Linked DNA regions of Homo sapiens: all the other regions are linked to region 1. Evidence: fine-mapped expression QTL. A gene starts in region 1. Each other region holds a variant in brackets. All regions are shown on one strand. Distances are between the middles of the regions.

Region 1 (5,201 bases):
ACAGTAATGTCCTAGGCCAGGGGTCCCCAACCCCCGGGCTGTGGACCCATCCCAGTCTGTGGCCTGCTAGGAACTGGGCCACACAACAGGAGATGAGCAGCTTCATCTGTATTTACAGCAGCTCCCCATGGCTTGAATTACCACCTGAGTTCCACCTCCTATCAGATCAGTGGTGGCATTAGAATCTCATAGGAGTGCGAACCCTATTGTGAACTGTGCATGTGAGGAATCTAGGTTGTTGCGAGCTCCTTATGAGAATCTAATGCCTGATGATCTGAGGTGGAACAGTTTCATCCCCAAACCATCTGTCCGCCCGCAAGTCCATGGAAAAACTGTCTTTCATGAAAATAGTCCCTGGTGCCAAACCAGTCCCTGCTGTCCTAGGCCTTCACATTCACTCACCATTCACTCGCTGACTCACCCAGTGCAGCTTCCAGTCCTGCAAGCTCCATTTATGGTAACTGCCCAGTACAGGTGTACTATTTAAAAAATCTTTTAGACTGTATTTTTACTGTGCCTTTTCTATGTTCAGATACACATTTACCATTGTGTTACAGTTGCCTACAGTATTCAGCCCGGTACCATGCTGTCCAGGTTTGTATTCTAGGAGCAACAGGCTATACACCATGTAGCCTTGGTGTGCAGTAGGCTACCCCATCTAGGACTGTGTAGGTGCACTCTGTGATGCTCCCACAATGACCACAATCACCTAATGATGCATTTCTCAGAATGTAGCCCCGTTGTTAAGCAACACATGACTCTATGAGAAATAAAGCCGCTAAGAACAGTGAAGAATGGTTTACCACCCAACCTCAAGCTCAAAGGCAGCAGGTAAAATGTAACAGTGCTCTTGTGCCATCAGCCCCAGTGGAAGGCAGAACCTGCAGCTTCTAATATGAACATCAAATGACCCCAACTCATTCCCTGTGAGGGCTCCGTGTGTGATCTCATCCCCATGCCTCCTCTGCACTGTCATCTTGGTTTCTGTCTCTCCTTCTCTCACTGCCTTTTCCTGCCCTTTGAGCCCTCTGGCAGGGGCAGAGGCTTAATCTGCTGATCCTTGTCATTCTTTTTTGGATAAAATGATTCCCGATATTTGCAAGTGAGCCTAAAGGTCTTTAACCCATGATAATTTTGTGTTTACACATGTACAAGTCTGTATTTTGAGTCACTGAATTACTAGAAGAGCCAGTGATTACCTAATGGTTGAGAACACAGGCTTTGAAATCAGACCTGGTTCAAATAACTTAACCTTCTGTGCCTCAGTTTTTTAATCTGTAAAGTGGGGAGAATAATCTTGACTGTCTTAAGAGCTGTTGCCAGTTGGGTAGTGAACTAAGCATGAGATTGGGGGTATAAGGTTCAGCAATATTAACTGTTCAAGGAAATTCTCACCAAGTGGTGCAGTGGGACTCTAGGTGGCCTGTCCGTGTCCACTGAAGGTGGTAGATGCACACTTGGGAACAGTGGGCAACAGCAGGGAGCAAGGAACTGGATTTTATGGCAAAGCCCCGCTTCAAACTTGTTGTCAAGCCGGTAAAAAGGAAGCAATACTGCTGGGGAAGGGGCGGCAGGCGCCATGTCCGGCCACGAAGGTGGCAAGAAGCCACTGAAACAGCCCAAGAATGCAGGCCAAGGAGATGGACGAGGAAGATAAGGCTTTCAAGCAGAAACAAAAAGAGGAGCAGAAGAAACTCGAGGAGCTAAAATGGAAGGCCACGGGGAAGGGGCCCTTGGCCACAAGTGGAATTAAGAAATCTGGCAAAAAGTAAGCTGTTCCCTGTGCCTAAGGAGATGGTGACCCTTTATTTCATCAGTATTTAAACCTCTCTATTCCCTGCCATAACATCTTTTGCCACCTATGGCTGGAATTAAGTGTTGTCTTGGAGCTGTTGTACATTTAAGAATAAACTTTTGTTAAAAAAAAAAAAGAAGCAATACAACGAAATGTACAGTACAATGCCATCTGTGTATCAAATGCAGGAGACAGGGGATGAGATGCGGGGAGGAGACCCAAGGCAGGAGAAGCGCCTAGCCCTGATGGTTACCAGCAGAGGACTGAGGAGCGTTATCAGCACCACTGAATGCTCCAGAAGTTCAAACAACAACAACAACAAAAACGCAACACGCGATCAGAGGCGTTTTCTGCCAGTGACCCGCGAACTTTGCCCCCCACCCCTCGTCCCCGCTCCATACTATCCTTGATCTTGGCCAAAAGGCGGAGAAACAGCGAACTTTTCCCTGGAGCCAGAAGGACGCAAAGGTTCGCTAGCGGCCCAGGGCGGGCGCGCGGCTGGAGAGGCACCCTCCTCACTCTGCCCGCTGCCGCACTGGGCACTGGGACTGGCTCCGCTGCCTCCGCCCCCGAACCGGGCCAGGACCCTTGGCGGGGGAGGGGAACGCGCACTTAAACGCTCCTGGCCTGGGGGCCGCGGGGCCCAGTCCTACCCGTGCGGACCCCGCTCCCCCTTCCACACAGTCGGAAGACCCCAAAGGGCCTTTGAAGAGACCGAGGTTGCCAGAGGCCCCCCGCCCCCAGCTAGAGTCTGGAGCCACTAAGGCGGCCGCCCACCTCTCAGGCCTGGAGCGGTTTGGGGCGCCTAGAACTGGGAGGGAGGGACTGGGGATCGAATCCTTCAACGCACTGAGCGGCCCACCTGCCGGTCCCCCGCTGCCTCCGGCCTAGTCCCAGTCGCGTCATGCGCCGCCCCGGAACTGCACATTTACCTTGGTCCGGACCCGCCAGGGCGCGCACTTGGATCTCTGAGCCCCCGGCCGCCCCGTCGGAAGCGCAGCCGCGGGCCCGAAGGGGCCTCCAGGGGCGCAGGAGGCACAGAACGCGCAGCATCGGGGCGCAGGCTGGGAGTGAAGGTGCTTCTCCGGCCCTGCACCGTCTCGGCTCCCGCTGAGAGCTCGCAGTTCCGGCGTCGGGCGAAGCCTTCGCCAATTGCTCCACCTATGGGCCAAGCGTCTGTTGCCTCCTTCCGCACCTCCCGGGGACAGGGAGACTTGAGCGGAGGAGGTCGGGGGAAGCCCAGCTCCTCTGTGTGATTTGGTGTAACTCTGTCAACCTCCCAGCGTCAGTGTTTTAATCCTGTAAAATGGGGATAATAGTGACTACCCCGTGGTGGTGTGAAGATTAAATGGGGTGTGTGAACCTTGCTTGCACATATGCTCAATTTCATTTTTTAAATGAAATGACATTTAATGAGTCCCTTGAGCGTGTCTACACTTGCGAACCTCACTGCTTCACCTCCCATTTGCGCCTCACTTTTTTTTTTTTTTTTTTTTTTTGAGACGGAGTCTCGCTGTGTCGCCCAGGTTGGAGTGCTGTGCCTTGATCTTGGCTCACTGTAACCTCCGCCTCCGGGTTCAAGCGATTCTCCTGCCTCAACCTCCCAAGTAGCTGGGATTACAGGGACGCGCCACCACGCCCAACTAATTTTTTTTGTATTTTTAGTAGAGGCAGGGTTTCACCATGACGAAACCCTGTCTCTGTTAAACATTCAAAAAAATTAGCTGGGCGTGGTGGCGGGCGCCTGTAATCCCAGCTACTTGGGAGGCTGAGGCAGGAGAATCACTTGAACTCGGAAGGCACAGGTTCAGTGAGCTGAGATCGCGCCACTGCACTCCAGGCTGGGCAATGAGCGAAACTGCGTCCCAAAAAAAAAAATTATTCTCTTAAACACAGTATATACAAAGCACTCTCACATTGCTGATGTGAATGTCTTTAAATGAAAAGCAACTGGTAATTTATATCAAAATTATAAATGCACAAGCTCATTGCCCCAGAAATTCCAATTTTAGAAATTTAACCTACAGATAAATCCACACAGCTGTGAAATGACACGTGTTCATGGCTGTACATTGCAGCATTGTTTATAATAGCAAAAGACTGGAAGCACATGGTGCTGTCATGTGCTTCTGGTGAGGCCTCAGGAAGCTTACAATCATGGCTGAAGGTGACAGGGATCCAGCATGTCACATGGCGAGAATAGGAACAAGAAAATTAGGTGGGGAGGTCCCAGTTTATCGCCAAGGGGATGGTGCTAAACCATTCACAAGGGATCTGTCCCCATGATCCAGTCACCTCCCAACAGGGCCCACCTCCAACATTGGGAATCATATTTCAACGTGAGATTTGGAGGGATCCAACACCCAAACTATATCACAGTCTCAATATCCATCAATAGAGGGTTGGTTAAATAAATTATGGGGCTGTGTGTGGTGGCTCACCCTATTATTCCAACACTTTGGAAGGCCAAGGCAGGTAGGTCCCTGGAAGCCAGGAGTTTGAAACCAGCCTGGGAAATATAGCAAGCCCCTATCTCTACTTAAAAAAAAAAAAAAGGTACATCAATAATCTGAATACTATGCAGCTATAACAAAACACAGGAAACTGTTTATGCATTGATATGAAACAATCTTCAAAATCTATTGGTATATGAAACAAGTCAAAATGCAGAATAGTGTGTAAAGAAAGCTAAAATTTGGCCGGGTCTGGTGGCTCATGCTCATGAACCTAGCACTTTGGGAGGCCGAGACAGGAGGATTGCTTGAGGCCAGGAGTTCAAGACCAACCTAGCCAACATAGCAAAACCCCACCTCTATTGAAAGAAATAATAAAGAAAACAAAAATTTGTGTTAACAAGGGGGATAAGAGTATGCATGTGTATATTTGATTGTATTTACATAAAACATCTTTGGAAGGATAGGGAAGAAGAACCGAGAGGCTGGGAATAAGGGTAAGAGAGACAAGTTTTACGGTTTGACCTGTTATACGTTTTTGGACACAGGATGTTGTTGTTGCCCAGATTGGAGTGCAGTGGCAGTATCTTGGCTCACTGCAGCTTCTGCCTCCCGGGCTCAGGTGATCCTTCCACCTCACCCTCCTGAGTAGCTGGGACCACAGGTACATGCCACAACATTGGCTAATTTTTGTATTTCTTGTAGAGACGGGGTTTTGCCATGTTGCCAAGGTTGGTCTCGAACTCCTGAGCTCAGGCGATTTGTCCACCTTGGCCTTCCAAAGTGCTGGGATTACAGGTGTGAACCACCATGCCTGGCCCCTTTTATACTTTTTGAATCTTGATTTTTGTTTTAAGTATAACTTACTCAAAATAAATAATGAAAATGAAAACAAAGCACAATAACAAAAATTAAAAACATGCCTTAGCAAAAATAAAACTAATATATACACA
Region 2 (5,000 bases), 41 kb after region 1:
CTGATTTTCAATTTTTTTTTTTTTTTTGAGACAGAGTCTCACTCTGCCGCCCAGGCTGGAGTGCAATGGCATGATCTCAGCTCACTGCAACCTCTGCCTCCCGGGTTCAAGCAATTCTCCTGCTTCAGCCTCCTGAGTAGCTGGGATTACAGGCGCCTGCCACCACGCCCAGCTAATTTTTTTATTTTTAGTAGCGACGGGGTTTCACCACGTTGGCCAGGCTGGCCTCAAACTCCTGACCTCGTGATCCGCCCGCCTGGCCTCCCAAATTGCTGGGATTACAGGTATGAGCCATGGCGCCTGGCCTATATTCTTTTTTCTAGTTTATTCTACTCACTTCTACTCATTCTTTTTCATTCTGCTCATTTTCTATTTCAATCTGCTCTCATTCTTGATGTTTCCTTTCTTCTCCTTACTTTGGGTTTAATTTATTCTTTATTTTAAATTAGCCACGCCCAGCTAATTTTTTGCAGAGACGGAATCTTGCTATGTTGCCCATGCTGGTCTCGAACTCCTGGGCTCAGGTGGGCCTTCCACCTGGGCCTGCCAAAGTGTTGGGATTACAGGCATGACCCACCATGCCTGGCTACTATGTATATGTGTGTGTGTGTGTGTGTGTGTGTGTGTGTGTGTGTGTATATGTGTGTATATATATGTATGTATATACATGTGTATATATGTATGTATATATATGTATATATGTATGTATATGTATATATGTATGTATATATGTATATATGTATGTATATATGTGTATATATGTATGTATATATGTGTATATATATGTATGTGTATATATATGTATATATGTGTGTTGTGTGTATATATTATGTGCGTGTGTGTGTGTGTGTGTGTGTGTGTATATTTATTTATTTATTCATTCCCAAGACAGAGTCTCACTCTGTCGCCCAGGCTGGAGTGCAGTAGTGGTGTGATCTCGGCTCACTGCAATCTTCACCTCCTGGGTTCAAGCAGTTCTCCCACCTCAGCCTCCCGAATAGCTGGGACTGTAGGTGCATACCACCACACCTGGCTAATTTATGTATTTTTAGTAGAGATAGGGTTCACCATGTTGGCCAGGCTGGTCTTGAACTCCTGAGCTCAAGTGATCCACCCGTCTCAGCCTCCCAAAGTGCTGGGATTACAGGTGTGAGCCACCACGCCCAGCCTATTTCCTTTGGTTCTTTTTTTTTTTTTTTTTTTTTTTAATTATACTTTAAGTTCTAGGGTACATGTGCACAACGTGCAGGTTTGTTACATACGTATGCATGTGCCATGTTGGTGTGCTGCATCCATTAACTTGTCATTTACATTAGGTATATCTCCTAATGCTATCCCTCCCCCCAACCCCCACCCCACAACAGGATGGAATAGTTACTGGCACATACTGGATGCCCAATAAATATTTCTTGAAAGAGTTAATACCTCTTTGGTCACTTGATTATTTTTTCTTCTTCCCATGTTTCCCTGTGGAGCATGTCTTAACTGATTTGATTCACATTGACAATTTCTGGTGTACTATGTGCTTAGAATAAATAAATATCTTAATAGCACTGTAGTAGTTTTGAAAGAGACACTTATCATGTCAGCTGCTTATGAAATTTTGTTCCCCCCTCTTAGTTTTCAGATAGAACCATTCCCACTGATAAGCATGTTGACCTCCTGATCAATAAGTATGGATTGTCTGCTCACCCAGTTGCTCCTCAGATGTTTGGGTATGCTGGAAAAGAACATATGGAAAAATATGGTATGTTACAGTTAAAAAACTTTGAGGCTTCTTACTAGTTATATACATGAGATGAGAAATGACAGTTATTTATTAAGGAACTGTGGAGGATGCCAGGATATATAAGATGTAAAATGTTTTTTGAATTAAATCGAAGTAATAGTTCTTGTAGAACTTAGTCATAGAGAAAGTATTTATATATAGACTATGGTATGGGAAGTACCTAGAGTACTCTATAGCAGGAAGTTGAAATAGGAAAAATAACACAAATCTTGTCTCCTTTAATCATGGACTATAAATTATTTTTTTCCAAGCTGAGGGTTTCACTCTGTTATGCAGGTTGGGTGCAGTGGTGCGATCTCGGCTCACTGCAACTTCCATCTCCCAGGCTCAAGCGATCCTTCCACCCCAGCCTCTCGAATAGCTGGGACTACAGATGTGCACCACCATGTTCGGCTAATTTTTTGTATTTTTGGTAGAGGTGGCTTTTTGCCATGTTGCCCAGGCTGGTCTCAAACTCTGAGCTCAAGTGATCCACCTGTCTCAGCCTCCCAAAGTGTTGGGATTACAGGCGTGAGCCACCATGACTGGCCATGGACTATAAATTGAGGATCTTAAAATGTCAACCAAGAAGAGGTGAAAGATCAAGCTATTCATACTCTACATTCAATATATCAGCAAGCCTTTTCTCTATATTCTCAGTCTATCCATTTCTCACCATTTCTGCTACTTTTGCTGTAGTGGCATAATTTCGCACCTGAAATTTAGGAGTGTTCTAACTGGTTTCTCTACTTCTGCTTGTGCACCTCCAGAGTCAATTCTCTACTTTATAGCCAGAGCCATGCTTTTAAAATATATCAGATCATTTCACTCCTGTGCTTAAAATTCTCCATTGTTTCTCATGACATTCAGATTGAAACCCAAATGTCTTCTTATGGCCTATGAGCTTCTACATGATCATTCCCTTCACCCTCATTAGCTCTCTGACTGTATCTCCGACCATTTTTTCTTTCACTAGTCTGCTCCAACCACACTATCCTTTCTTTCTGTTCCTCAAACACACCAAGCTTTTCTTCAGGTAGGGCCTTAGCTTCTACCCTAAGATTGTCAGAGCCAGCTCCCTTGCTTCCATCAGGTCTTTGCTTAAAAGCCACCTTCTGCTTTCTTTCATCACTCTCCTTCCCAGAACTTCCTATTCACTATCTCCTGCTTTATCATTTTATATGGCACCTATAATAATCTGACATATATCTGACACATACATATATGTCAGATTATTAC[A/T]GGTGCCATATAACATGATATATATATATATATTCTTGTTTATTGACTCTTCCAACCAGAATATAAGTTCAACAAAAGCATGGATTTTTATTTGTCTTATTTCCTGCACATTGATTGTTAACCTAGAATAGTACCTGGCTAAACCAAGGATAAAAGAAAAAAAAAAAAAAGAATAGTGCCTGGCACAAATCAGTGTTGTGTAATTAATTCATCTTTAAAATTTAGAAAGACCCTCCATGACTATTCAAATCAAAGTAGTCCCCTCCTGTTATCCTCTTTCTTAGATAGCTTCATATTGCTTCCTTCATAGCACTTAGCACTATTTATGTTCATATATTTATCATATGTGATTTTACTTGTTTAATTTTCATCTTCCTTATTAGTCTATAAACTCCACGAAAGCAGGTCCATGTCTGCTTTGTTTACCTTGATATACACAGCCAAGCACAGAGCTTGGCATGTTATTTAACCAGAAAGAAGTTTTTTTTTTTTCTTTCTCTTCTATAGTCTGCAGCATATTTAAATACTCAAGAAACATTTATTGAATGAAGGAGTGAATTTCCATATGTATGTTATCTTATTCAGCTATCACAAGAATCCATTATCGGAGGTGTTATTATCTCATTTTATACCAGAAGAATCTGATATTCAGACAAGTTTTTGACCAGGATGATAGGGTCAATAAGTAGCAGAGCCTATGTTCCATTCTATTTCTGTCTCACTCAAAAGCCCTTGCGCAGCCCTTTCTCCCAGTAATAGTAGCTGCTCTTTGTTGCGTGCCTCACACATCTTAGATATTTTACACACCAAATATAACAACTATTTTAAGAGGTAAGTGTATGCCTATTTTTCATATGAGGAACCTGAAGCTTGGAGAATTTGAGTAACTTCTTCTAATAGGTGATAGGAGAGGGTTTCACACCCAAATCTGCCATACTATAAAACCTCCATTCTTTTCATTGTTTCTCATATAGCTATATTTAATTTTAAATAATAAAAAGCTTTTACTGTATATTAACTTTTAGTTTTCTTGTCATTCCTGTACATAGTTGAGGGACATTAAGTACTTTTTGTTAGCATTTATTATAGGTACAGAAACATGTTTTGCTTGAAATTTTCATTTGTGCTTGGCTTTCCTTTTTTCTTTTTTGACCTATTTTGTGAAGGGGAAGGAAAACTGAATATTGTAATAGCATTTTTGTTTAAAAATCATAAATATTTTAAATTACTTAATTAGATAATGAATGTGGCCAGATTATAATTTGAAATTAAATTTGTTTATGGTTGTCATTTGAAAGGTTTGTCAAATTTTTTTCTTTTCTCTCTTTTTTTTTTTTTTTTTGAGACAGAGTCTCGCTCTGGAGTGCAGTGGCATGATCTTGGCTCACTGCAAGCTCCGCCTCCTGGGTTCACGCCATTCTTCTGCCTCAGCCTCCCGAGTAGCTGGGACTATAGGCACCCGACCACCACACATGGCATTTTTTGTATTTTTAGTAGAGACGGGGTTTCACCATGTTAGCCGGGATGGTCTCAATCTCCTGACCTCGTGATCCGCCCAACTCAGCCTCCCAAAGTGCTGGGATTACAGGTGTGAGCCACCGTGCCTGGCCCAGGTTTGTCGATTTTAAAAGATGATATGCTTCATTTTTAGAGGTATATTGTAATATACTTTAAAAATATTTTGTTTAGAAGTAATTTCAGACTGAACAAGAATGTTGCCAAAATAGTACAAGAATTCCTAATACTTTTCCTCTAGATTTTCTAAAAATTAACATTTTGCCATGCTTGTTGTTTTAATGAATTCTTTTTACCTATATTGCTATGTAATTTTTAAAAAATGTAAGGCTGGGTGCTGTGGCTCACGCCTGTAATCCCAGCACTTTGGGAGGCCAAGGCGGACGGATCCTGAGGTCAGGAGTTCAAGACCAGCCTGGCCAACATGGTGAAACCCCGTCTCTACTAAAAATACAAAAAATTAGCCGAGCCTGGTAGT
Region 3 (5,201 bases), 980 kb after region 1:
GCCCAGCTGGGGTCACTGCCTGAGCCCTGGCTGCCAGGGGCAGAGTGCGAACCTGGCCCTTCTGTCTTCCAAAGAGCAAGGCTGGGCACACTGTTTCATAAATAGAATACAAAATAGGGAATTCTAAGTAGGAAGGAGAGTTAGGAGTTGGGCAGCCAAAACTGCAACAAACAAGTCAGATATAGTCAAGTGCACCTATAGTTCCAGCTACTCAGAAGGCTGAGGCAGGAGGATCACTTGAGCCCAGAAGTTCAAGGCTGTAGTGTATTATGATGGCACCTGTGAATAGCCACTGCATTCCAGTCTGGGCAACATAACAAGATCTCATCTCTCAAAAAAAAAAAAAAATGAAAAAGAAAATATGCAATAATATTCACCACCCTTGCTTTATATTCCTATGATAGCCCACATACCTAGGATAAAATCCAGATTCTTTACAAAGGCTTATGGGAGCCTGCCTGCTCTGGTCCATCCCTAACACTCCAACCCTTCTCTTGTTGCTCTCTATGCCGGGTTCCTGCCAGTGGTTTTGTGGGGCCTTGAACACACCAAGTTCTCTCCCTCCTTGGGGACTCTGTGTGAGTCTCTTTGGCTAGAATCCCTTTCTCCCTTTTCCCATGGCTGGTTCTCTCCTGTTTTTCATTTCTCAGGTTAAATGGCAGCTCCTCAAAGGCCTTCCCTGCCCCGCCTGTCTAAAATAGGTAACTCCTTTATAGCCTCTCTCGTAACACTGATCACAATTTGAAACTTCTTCATTTACGCATTTACTTACTTTTTTTTGCCTGTCTCCCCACTAAGCAGACTTCAAACTGCACACAGCCAGAGAGCTGCTGGTCTCATTCTCTGCCGAATCCCCAGTGTGTGGCAGGGAGACTTGCATATTTTAAGTGCTGAATAAATATTTGTAGATAGGATGAGAGTATACTACATTCTGGAGATTCGAGGATGAATGAGGAACAGGCCCTGCCCTCAGGGGACAATGAGTAGGGGGGTTTGGGGGTATGTGGACACTTAAACAGGCCATGTCACAGTGCAAGACTAGCCATGCTCCAATAAATGTATGGTAAGGGCTCAACAATGTCAGCTCTGGCCGTAAGAAACCACAGGAGGCCAGCTGCTCCCCAGAGTTGTCCTTGGTCTAGGATGGGGAGTTACAGAAGGCTTCCACCCAGGGCTGGCTTCATGGACATGGGACCAGTGAATCACACAGGGACCTACACTCAAAAGGGCCTTGTCCTTGGGATTTAATGTTCTGCAGCAGCTGTCTTGAATTTTTGTTGCTGTTGTTGTTTTTAGCACACCAGAGTTGTAAAGTATGTCTTGAAATTCTTCATAATTTTATCTTTGAATCTGCATTTTGTAAGTGAAACCCTACGGGACAATGGAGCATGCCCTGAGGACTTGGAGCCTCTGCTTGCACAGGCTCCTGCCTTCCACAGCCTCCCTGCCCCTCCAGGACATGTTCTCTAAGGCCCACTCTCCCATCCCCAGGTGCTCCTTCCTGCTTCCACCCAGTGACTGCTGCCATCTCCTGACCCCAGAGTGGGCCTGGATACAGACATGAGGAAGGTGGGGGTCAGGTGTCACGTCCCCCAGTGTTGCATGGCAGCTGTCCCCATCCCGGGCTCGCAGTGCCATAGTGCAATTCGCCAAGTGACTGAGGGTGGGGGAAGCCTCTTGCCCACCCTTTCCCCCATCAAGGTACCTAGTATGTTCCTTACAGAGGTTGCAATACCCTGTGGGTTGGGGTGGTGGGCAGGTGGGAAGGGGCCATGTCTGGCTCAACTTCTGTGATGCTGGGCGGGGCATGGCATGTTGGTCTGGTGGCTGGAGGGAAAGGGAAATGCACACACACTCGGTCTCTGGGGTGCTGGGTAGCTGTGAGGATCTGCTCTCACTCTATGAATACCCCAGGGGAGTATGACATCAAATAGCAACTAAAAGACACGATGCCAGGTCAAGAGAGGGACTACAGAAGATTAGAAATGTCTTTGTATTTCAGGCTGGGCACGGTGGCTCAGGCCTGTAATCGCAGCACTTTGGGAGGCCGAGGCCGGCGGATCACTTGAGGTCAGGAGTCTGAGACCAGCCTGGCCAACATAGTGAAACCCCGTCTCTACTAAAAATACAAAAATTAGCCAGGTGTGGTGGTGTGCACCTGGAGTCCCAGCTACTCAGGAGGCTGAGGCAGGAGAATCGCTTGAACCCCGGAGGCGGAGTTTGCAGTGAGCTGAGATCACACCACTGCACTCCAGCCTGGGTGAGACTCCATCTCAAAAAAATAAAAAAGAAACGTCTTTATATTTTAATAAATTTAATGGCACTTTCCCCCACTTTTTGAACAAGGAACCCTGCATTTTCATTTGGCGGCAGGCCCAGCAAATTATGCAGCTGGTCCTGCTCCTAGCATTCACTCTCTTTGTGGAGCTGCCTTCGGTGCCTCCCTACTTCATAGCTCAGGGAGGAGATACAAGCTCATAGCAACAGCTTATATTTATGAAGCACCTACTATGGGCCAGTAACCAGTTTAAGCCCTTATCTCTATTAATTTATTTAATCCTCCTAACAGTGCTACAAAGGATTATTATGCCCCCCTTGTGGATGAGGAAACTGAAGTGCTATGAATAGAAAGAGCACTGAATTGAGAGTTCAGAAACCAGAATGTTCATTTTAACTCCTCACTGACCTGCTGTGTGACCTGGAGCAAATGTGTAAAACTCAGTTTCTTTGTCTATAAAATGGGGGGAAAAAATGACCAACCTTGCAGTATTACTAATCCCATCGCATGACAGAATGGATGCATACCTGCCTTATAAACTGCATGAAAGGGACTCCTCTTATATTTAAACTGCTATGCGGCAACTGCAGGTGGTCCACTGAGACCACCTAAAAAAACCTCTCATTTTAGAGAGGAGTAAACCAGCTCCAGCCCCTGCTAAGTCATGCTCTCTAGGTGTCGGACCCCAGTGCCTAGGACCCATCCTGGGGTGGGGGGTAGGGGGAAATAAAAATAACAGAATTGAAC[A/T]TAGGAGTGAAAATGGTGCTTGTAAAAGAAAGCTGTGTGTAGGGTCTCAGTTTGTGATGGTTGTTGCTGTTTCAGGTAATAGGCCACTGGTGCTGAATTTTGGAAGTTGTACCTGACCTTCATTTATGTTCAAATTTGACCAGTTCAAGAGGCTTATTGAAGACTTTAGTTCCATAGCAGATTTTCTTGTCATTTACATTGAAGAAGCACATGCATCAGGTACAGAAAGATTCTCTGCCTCTTCTACCTCTTCCCACTGTCTTTTCTCTCTCCCTTTTCCCCAGGCCCCATCTCAAGGTTGGGAGGTGGAAGGAGGAAGAGGAGGGGAGAGGGAAAGAGCCACTATTCACTGAGCACCCACCACTCCCAGGCCCTGCACTGGGCTAACCTCACAGTCTGTGCTTTCAACCAGGGTACAGAGAGCAGAACACCTGGAGTGACAGGGTCTGGCTAGGAGAGGATTCTAACATTTTGATCGGATAAATAGGGAAGTCAAGGGAGAAGAACTGATTTGAACACATTTACAAAGAATTCAGACCCAAAATGTCACAGGTGAAATGACGGCCTTATGGCTATTTTTTTTTTTTTTTTTTTTTGAGATAGGGTCTTGTTCTGTCGCCTGAGCTGGGGCTGGAATGCAATAGCACTCACATGGCTCACTGCAGCCTCAACCTCCTGGGCTAAATCGATCCTCCTGTCTCAGCCTTCCAAGTAGCTGTACTGCAGGCATACGCCACCATGCCCAGCTAGTTTTTTGTATTTTTTGTAGAAACAGAGTTTCACCATGTTACTCGGGCTGGTCTCAAACTCCTAGGTTCAAACAATCTGCCCACCTCGGCCTCCCAAAGTGCTGGAATTACAGTCGTGAGCCACTGCACCCAGCCTATATTTGTATTTTTGAAAGAACACTGTGGTGAAGAATTAGGAGAAAAAATAGTACTTAAACTCAGTATGAATTAGAATCATCTGGAAGGCTGTTAAAACGCAGATGTCTGGGTCCCATTTCTAGTCCATCCACGCTGACGCCTAGGGTTTGCACTACTTAACAAACTTCCAGGTGACGCTGATGCTGTTAGTCTGGGGACACACACTTAGAGAACTACTGATCTAAACCCTTGCCTCTCCAAGTATGGTCTAGGCGCCAGCAGTCTTGGCATCCTGGGAGTTAGATGGACTCTCAGTTCCACCTTCGACAGACCGAATCAGAATCTTCCTATAACAAGGTCCCCAAATGATTCATGCACATTCAAGATCAAGGAGTGCTGGTTTATTGGACTATTTCACGTTGAAGAGCAGGGGTCTGGCAGACAGAAGCCCTGGGCTTCAGTTCTGGATCAATCACTAATTCCTGACGTGACCTTGCACATTCAACCATAATGGGAAACCAGGCCAAATCATTGCCAAGGGCTCCTCTGAGAACCTCAGTTAAAAGTGAGGGGCTATTTAGTCTGCAGGAAGTGTGTGCTGTGTCAATGGGACTCGGTGCCTGGCCTTTCTCTTGTAGATGGCTGGGCTTTTAAGAACAACATGGACATCAGAAATCACCAGAACCTTCAGGATCGCCTGCAGGCAGCCCATCTACTGCTGGCCAGGAGCCCCCAGTGCCCTGTGGTGGTGGACACCATGCAGAACCAGAGCAGCCAGCTCTACGCAGCACTGCCTGAGAGGCTCTACATAATCCAGGAGGGCAGGATCCTCTACAAGGTGGTGACCTGGGGACAGGGGGCCCAGGGAGGGCAAAGGGGCCCAGGGAGGGCAAGGGCAAAGAGAAGGCTTTGCATCAAGCAGAACTGGATTCAAATCACCACCCAGCCACTTACCAGCCATGTGACCATGGGCGAGTGCTTTCACTTCTTGGAGTTCCTTCAATTTCCTCTTCTGCAAAATGGGAATGTTGGTCTCCACCTCACGGGGGATGAAATAATGCACACGAATGTCCCTAGCATTTGGACTGGAGCTGCATCCTCCCGGCTTCCTTTTGAACCCAGATGATGGCCCAGTCCTGGTCTGGTTTCAAACTCAGAGACAGAGAATGTTGTTTTTGTTCTCTGTTTTTTGGGTTTCTTTCTTTCTTTTTTTTTTTTGAGACAGACTCTCACTCTGTTGCCCAGGCTGGAGTGCAGAGGGGTGACCTTGGCTCACTGCAACCTCCACCTCCCGGGTTCAAGCAATTCTC
Region 4 (5,201 bases), 150 kb before region 1:
ATATATATATTTTTTTTTTTTTTTTTTTTTTTTTTTTTTTTTGAGATGGAGTCTCGCTCTGTCGCCCAGGCAGGAGTGCAGTGGTATGATCTTGGCTCACTACAACCTCTGCTTCCCAGGTTCAAGTGATTCTCCTGCCTCAGTCTCCCAAGTAGCTGGGACTATAGGCACACACCACCATGCCCGGCTAAGTTTTTGTATTTTAGTAGAGACAGGGGTTCACCATGTTGCCAAGGCTAGTCTCGAACTCCTGAGCTCAGGCAGTTCGCCTGTCTTGGCCTTCCAAAGTGCTAGGATTACAGGAGTGAGCCACCACCCTCGGCCTGGTTTCTCTGAGAAATTGATGGATGAGTGGAGATCTTAAGGGTGAGTAGCTCAGTAGAGAGCATTCCAGGCAGACAGAATAATACGTGCAAAGACTGCGTTAGGAAGAGAGGTGAGACCCAGGCATCAGTATTTTTTAAAGCTTAGATGATTGCAGTGTCCAGCCAAACTCATGAATCACTGTTTTACAATAACTTTTTTTTTTTTTTTCCTCAGAGGCAGGGTCTTGCCCTGTTACCCAGGCTGGAGTACAGTGGGCATGAACAGGCTCACTGCAGCCTCTACCTCCTGGGCTCGAGTGGATCCTCCTGGCTTAGCCTCCTGAGTAGCTGGGACCACAAGCATGTGCCACCATAACTGGCTAATTTTTTTTTTTTTTTTTTGAGATGGAGTCTAGCTCCGTCACCCAGGCTGGAGTGCAATGGCGTGATCTCGGCTCACAGCAACCTCCACCTCCCAGGTTTTGACGAATTTCCTGCCTCAGCCTCCTGAGTAGCTGGGATTACAGGTGCCTGCTATCATGTCCAGCTAATTTTTGTATTTTTGGTAGAGATGGGGTTTTACCATGTTAGCCAGGCTAGTCTTGAACTCCTGACCCAGGTGATCTGCCTGCCTCGGCCTCCTAAAGTGCTAGGATTACAGGCGTGAGCCACTGTGCCTGGCCTAATTTTTTTTTTTTTTTTTTTTTTTTTTAGTGTTTTTGTAAAGATGGGTTCTTGCTCAGCGATCCTCCCACCTTGGCCTCCTAGTTTTGGGATTATAGGTGTAAGCCCCTGAGCCTAGCCTGGCTTTCTTACCATAGAATTTCCAGCTCTGTCATCAGTATTTCCCCACTCGATTTTCTCTTCTCACTATTTCCCTACTCAGTTTTCTCTTCTGTTACCATCAGTTTCCTGAACCTTCCATTTCTCCAGAACTAGAATTCTTACATTTGTTGGCCACCTTATCCCATACTTGGATTATCTACCATGCTGTAGCTCCCAACTCATGAGAACATTGAAAATCTGCTAAACCCAGTGTTAGTTCTTAGTCTTCATTTTATTTGACCCAAAGTAAAATGGTATTTGTCATAATTGATCTTTGCCTCTTCCTTGAGATACCTTTTTTTTTTTAACTTAGCTTCCAGGATATCATACTTGTCTTGTTTTTTTTTTCCTACTTGTCTTGCTACTAAGCCTCAATTTCCTTTGTTGGTTCTTCCTCATCTTCCAGGCTTCTAACTGTTGGAGAGTTCTGCACCTCAGTCCTTAAATCTATATGCTGATGACTCCTAAATTTGTGTCTTAACTTAGAGCTCTCCCTTGAAGTCAGACTCCTATATTGAACTGCAGTAATCAACATGCAGTGAAGGTACATAAATGTTTTTTGGCCAGGCGTGGTGGCTCATGCCTTTAATCCCAGCACTTTGGGAGGCCGAGGTGGGAGGATTGCTTGAGCTCAGGAGTTCAAGACTAGCCTGAGCAACATAGTGAGACCCCCATCTGACACCTGTAATCCCAGCACTTTGGGAGGCCAAGGCGGGCGGATCACTTGAGGTCAGGAGTTCAAGACCAGCCTGGCCAACGTGGTGAAACCCCGTCTCTACTAAAAATACAAAAATTAGCCAGGCATGGTGGCACATGCCTGTAATCCCATCTATTCAGGAGGCTGAGGCAGGAGAATTGCTTGAACCTGGGAGGCGGAGGTTATAGTGAGCCAGCATTGTGGCACTGCACTCCAGCCTGGGCGATAGAGTGGGTCTGTGTCTCAAAAACAAAAAAACAACAACAAAAAGATATCTGTTAATATCCCTGCTCTTGAGGAATTCTAGTCTAGTGGAGAAGATACAGACTAATTTAAAAATAGCTTTAGTCGGCCAGGCGTGGTGGCTCACGCCTGTAATCCCAGCACTTTGGGAGAAAAAAGAATATACTTATAATTTGAGCAGCCAGATGTGAGGGTTTGTCACTGGGTAGAGAAGTGTTGTTCACTGAATAAAACATAGAGGCAATGTCTGGATGCAGTGGCTCACGCCTGTAATCCCAGTGCTTTGGGAGGCTGAGGCAGGCGGATCACCTGATGTCAGGAGTTGGAGACCAGCCTGACGAACATGGAGAAACCCCGCCTCTACTAAAAATCCCAAAAAAATTAGCCGGGCGTGGTGGCGCATGCCTGTAATCCCAGCTACTTAGGAGGCTGAGGCAGGAGAATTGCTTGAACCCAGGAGGTGGAGGTTGTGGTGAACCAAGATGGCGCCATTGATTTCCTGCCTGAACAACAAGAGCAAAACTCTGTCTTAAAAAAAAAAATATATATATATATATGCAATAAAGTTGGCTTAGAGCACGCCTATAATCCCAGCACTTTGGGAGGCCAAGACATGCGGATCACTTGAGGCCAAGAGTTGGAGACCAGCCTAGCCAACATGATGAAACCTTGCCTCTACTAAAAATACAAAAAAATTTAGCCGGGCATGGTGACAGATGCCTGTTGTCCCAGTTACTTAGGAGGCTGAGGCAGGAGAATCACTTGAACCTGGGAGGTGGAGGTTGCAGTGAGCCAAGATTGTGCCACTGCACTCCAGACTGAGCAATAGAGAAAGACTGTGTCTCAAAAAAAAAAAAAAAAAAATTGGCTTAGAGTCTTTAACATTCCAGTAACAAGAGTTCTTTAATTTTATATTCAAGGTAACTTGAGGATATATTTCGTATAAGAGATTTATAAAGCTGTTGGAACCAACCAAATGTGGGTAAAGGAAGAATAAAGTCTGATTTAGATTATTTTATATTTCCCTCTTAGAGTTTTTTTCATTTCACATTTCAGCATTTTTTGTTTTTTTCTGAATTTATAAGAAAAAGTTCTGGGTGATTCAATGAACTGAACACTTTGAAAAATTTTATTAAATACCCATTTGTATATGTGAATATGTAGTCCAAACCAGTTTGTGTATGTATGTTATACATAA[A/C]TAGAAAGTTTAAAAAGGGTTTAAAGAAGTAAAGTAATGGAGGCTGGAAGTGGTGGCTCATGCCTGTAATCCCAGCACTTTAGGAGGCCGAGGTTGGCTGATCATTTGAGGTCAGGAGTTCGAGACCAGCCTGGCCAACATGACGAAATCCCGTCTCTACTAAAAATACAAAAATTAGCCGGGCGTGGTGGCGGGCGCCTGTAATCCCAGCTACTCAGGAGGCTGAGGCATGACAATTGCTTGAACCCGGGAAGTAGAGGTTGCAGTGAGCCGAGATCGTGCCACTGCACTCCAGTCTGGGCGACAGAGCAAGACCGTATCTCAAAAAAAAGGAAAAAAAAGAGAAAAGACGTAAAGTAATGGAAGTAAAGAAACTTTTATTATTATTTCAACAATCTTAGAAATTCTTCATATGTACCCTTGTGTCATGTGACATATATCAATACTGTAGTCTAATTCATTTCAGACTCTTGTAGCATATCCTATTAATGGTTGAAATGTCAACCATGATACATCCCTTCATTTCCTCAAAGCTGCATATTCCAATCTGAACGTTTATAGGCTTTTTTGTTTTTTTTGATAGAGTCTCACTCTGTTGCGCATCATGGAGTGCTGTGGCACAGTCATGGCTTACTGCAGCCTCAAATTCGTGGGCTCAAGCAGTCCTCTTCAGTCTCCCAAGTAGCTGGGACTACAGGCATGCACCATCACACGTAACTAATTTTTCTTTTCTTTTATAGAGACAGGGTCTTACTATGTTCCCCAGGCTGGTTTTGAACTCCTGGGCTCAAGTGATCCTCCTGCTTCTACCTCCCAAAGTGCTGGGATTACAGGCATGAGCCATCATGCCTGGCTGAATATTATATGTTTATATACAACTTAGTTACTGAGTAATATATTTTTAAAATATTTGATTACTTTTGTGTCACACTGTATAATGTTACTGCCAAAAAAGACTAAATCTTCCCCTTATTATGAGATAGTCGCTCTGAATGACGTTTTTTGGCATTTTTTAAAACTTTATTGTAAAATAAAACAGAGACAAAGGCAGTAAATAATTATATAGCTTAATGAGTTGAAAATAAAGTGAACACACTTGAGACCATCACTCAGGTTAAGTAACAGAACTTTGTCATCTACCCCAAAGCTCGCTTCAGCCTCCCAAAGTGGTGGGATTACAGGCGCGAGCCACTACACCCAACCATGTCCTTTCATTTCTTTATAATTTTATGACCCAACTATTTAGGCACCTGTATAATCTTGTCTGTTTAAAACAATTTGATGTCTTTTGAGTATCTTTTAGTTTATAGGTTTCTCCTCATCCCTTTCTTTTCCTTATAATTTGTTTATTGAATAATCTATCGTTTGGATTTGTAGAGTTTCCCTCAGTCTGGATTTTATTGTATTTGTTGATGTTTTGTAGAGACAGGGTCTTGCTGTGTTGCCCAGGCTGGTCTGGAACTCCTGGGGTTAAAGTGATGCTCCTGCCTCAGCCTCCGAAAGTGCTGGGATTACAGATATAAGCCACTCTGCCAGCCTGGATTTTGCTGATTGTATACTAATGGTGCATCTTTCTCTTTGTATTTTCTGCAAATTGGTAGCTGGATTTGGAGGCTTAATTAGACTTACGTTAGATCCCTTTGGCCAGACCCTTAGGTGTTGTATTCTTACGTTATGAGGTACATAAATATCTAGTTGTTTCTCTTTCTGTGATGTTAGCAGTTATTGACACTTAGTAGCTAGATCTATCAATTCATTGGGGATTATGGTGATATTTTAATCATTTATTTTTCACTTACTAGTTGGATTACTTTTATAAAGAGCCACTTTCTGCTACCTACGTTTGGTTGCCGAATGGCACCTGAACTACATTTTAAGATAAGCGTATTATCTTAAAATAATATACTTTTATGTTGGGAATCCCTAGAAAGAC

The links. PIP is the estimated chance that this variant, and not a neighbour inherited with it, causes the effect.
Region 2: its variant is fine-mapped to the expression of ECHDC2 in anterior cingulate cortex (GTEx, PIP 0.97). The same link has a PIP of 0.9 or more in cerebellum.
Region 3: its variant is fine-mapped to the expression of ECHDC2 in lymphoblastoid cells (CAP, PIP 0.95).
Region 4: its variant is fine-mapped to the expression of ECHDC2 in whole blood (TOPMed, PIP above 0.99).

What each region holds. Positions count from the first base shown.
Region 1 is chr1:52,918,826-52,924,026 of GRCh38, forward strand. ECHDC2 (enoyl-CoA hydratase domain containing 2) reads right to left here and starts at 2,915. Exons shown (of 10, transcript NM_001198961.2): 1 at 2,728-2,915. The coding sequence starts at 2,848. It also overlaps the pseudogene LOC112268226. RefSeq lists an enhancer at 2,618-3,300 and silencers at 2,635-2,813, 2,662-2,891.
Region 2 is chr1:52,959,883-52,964,882 of GRCh38, forward strand. SCP2 (sterol carrier protein 2) reads left to right here. Exons shown (of 16, transcript NM_002979.5): 6 at 1,621-1,747. Among named protein-coding and RNA genes, the nearest start is that of SCP2, 35 kb to the left of the region's middle. The variant A/T (reference allele first, on the strand shown) is at 3,008.
Region 3 is chr1:53,901,566-53,906,766 of GRCh38, forward strand. DIO1 (iodothyronine deiodinase 1) reads left to right here. Exons shown (of 4, transcript NM_000792.7): 2 at 3,101-3,244; 3 at 4,530-4,729. LOC124904180 (a long non-coding RNA gene) reads right to left here and starts at 5,133. Exons shown (of 2, transcript XR_007066095.1): 1 at 4,846-5,133. The variant A/T (reference allele first, on the strand shown) is at 3,026.
Region 4 is chr1:52,773,619-52,778,819 of GRCh38, forward strand. The region is part of intron 3 of ZYG11B (zyg-11 family member B, cell cycle regulator); the gene reads left to right. Among named protein-coding and RNA genes, the nearest start is that of ZYG11B, 50 kb to the left of the region's middle. The variant A/C (reference allele first, on the strand shown) is at 3,269.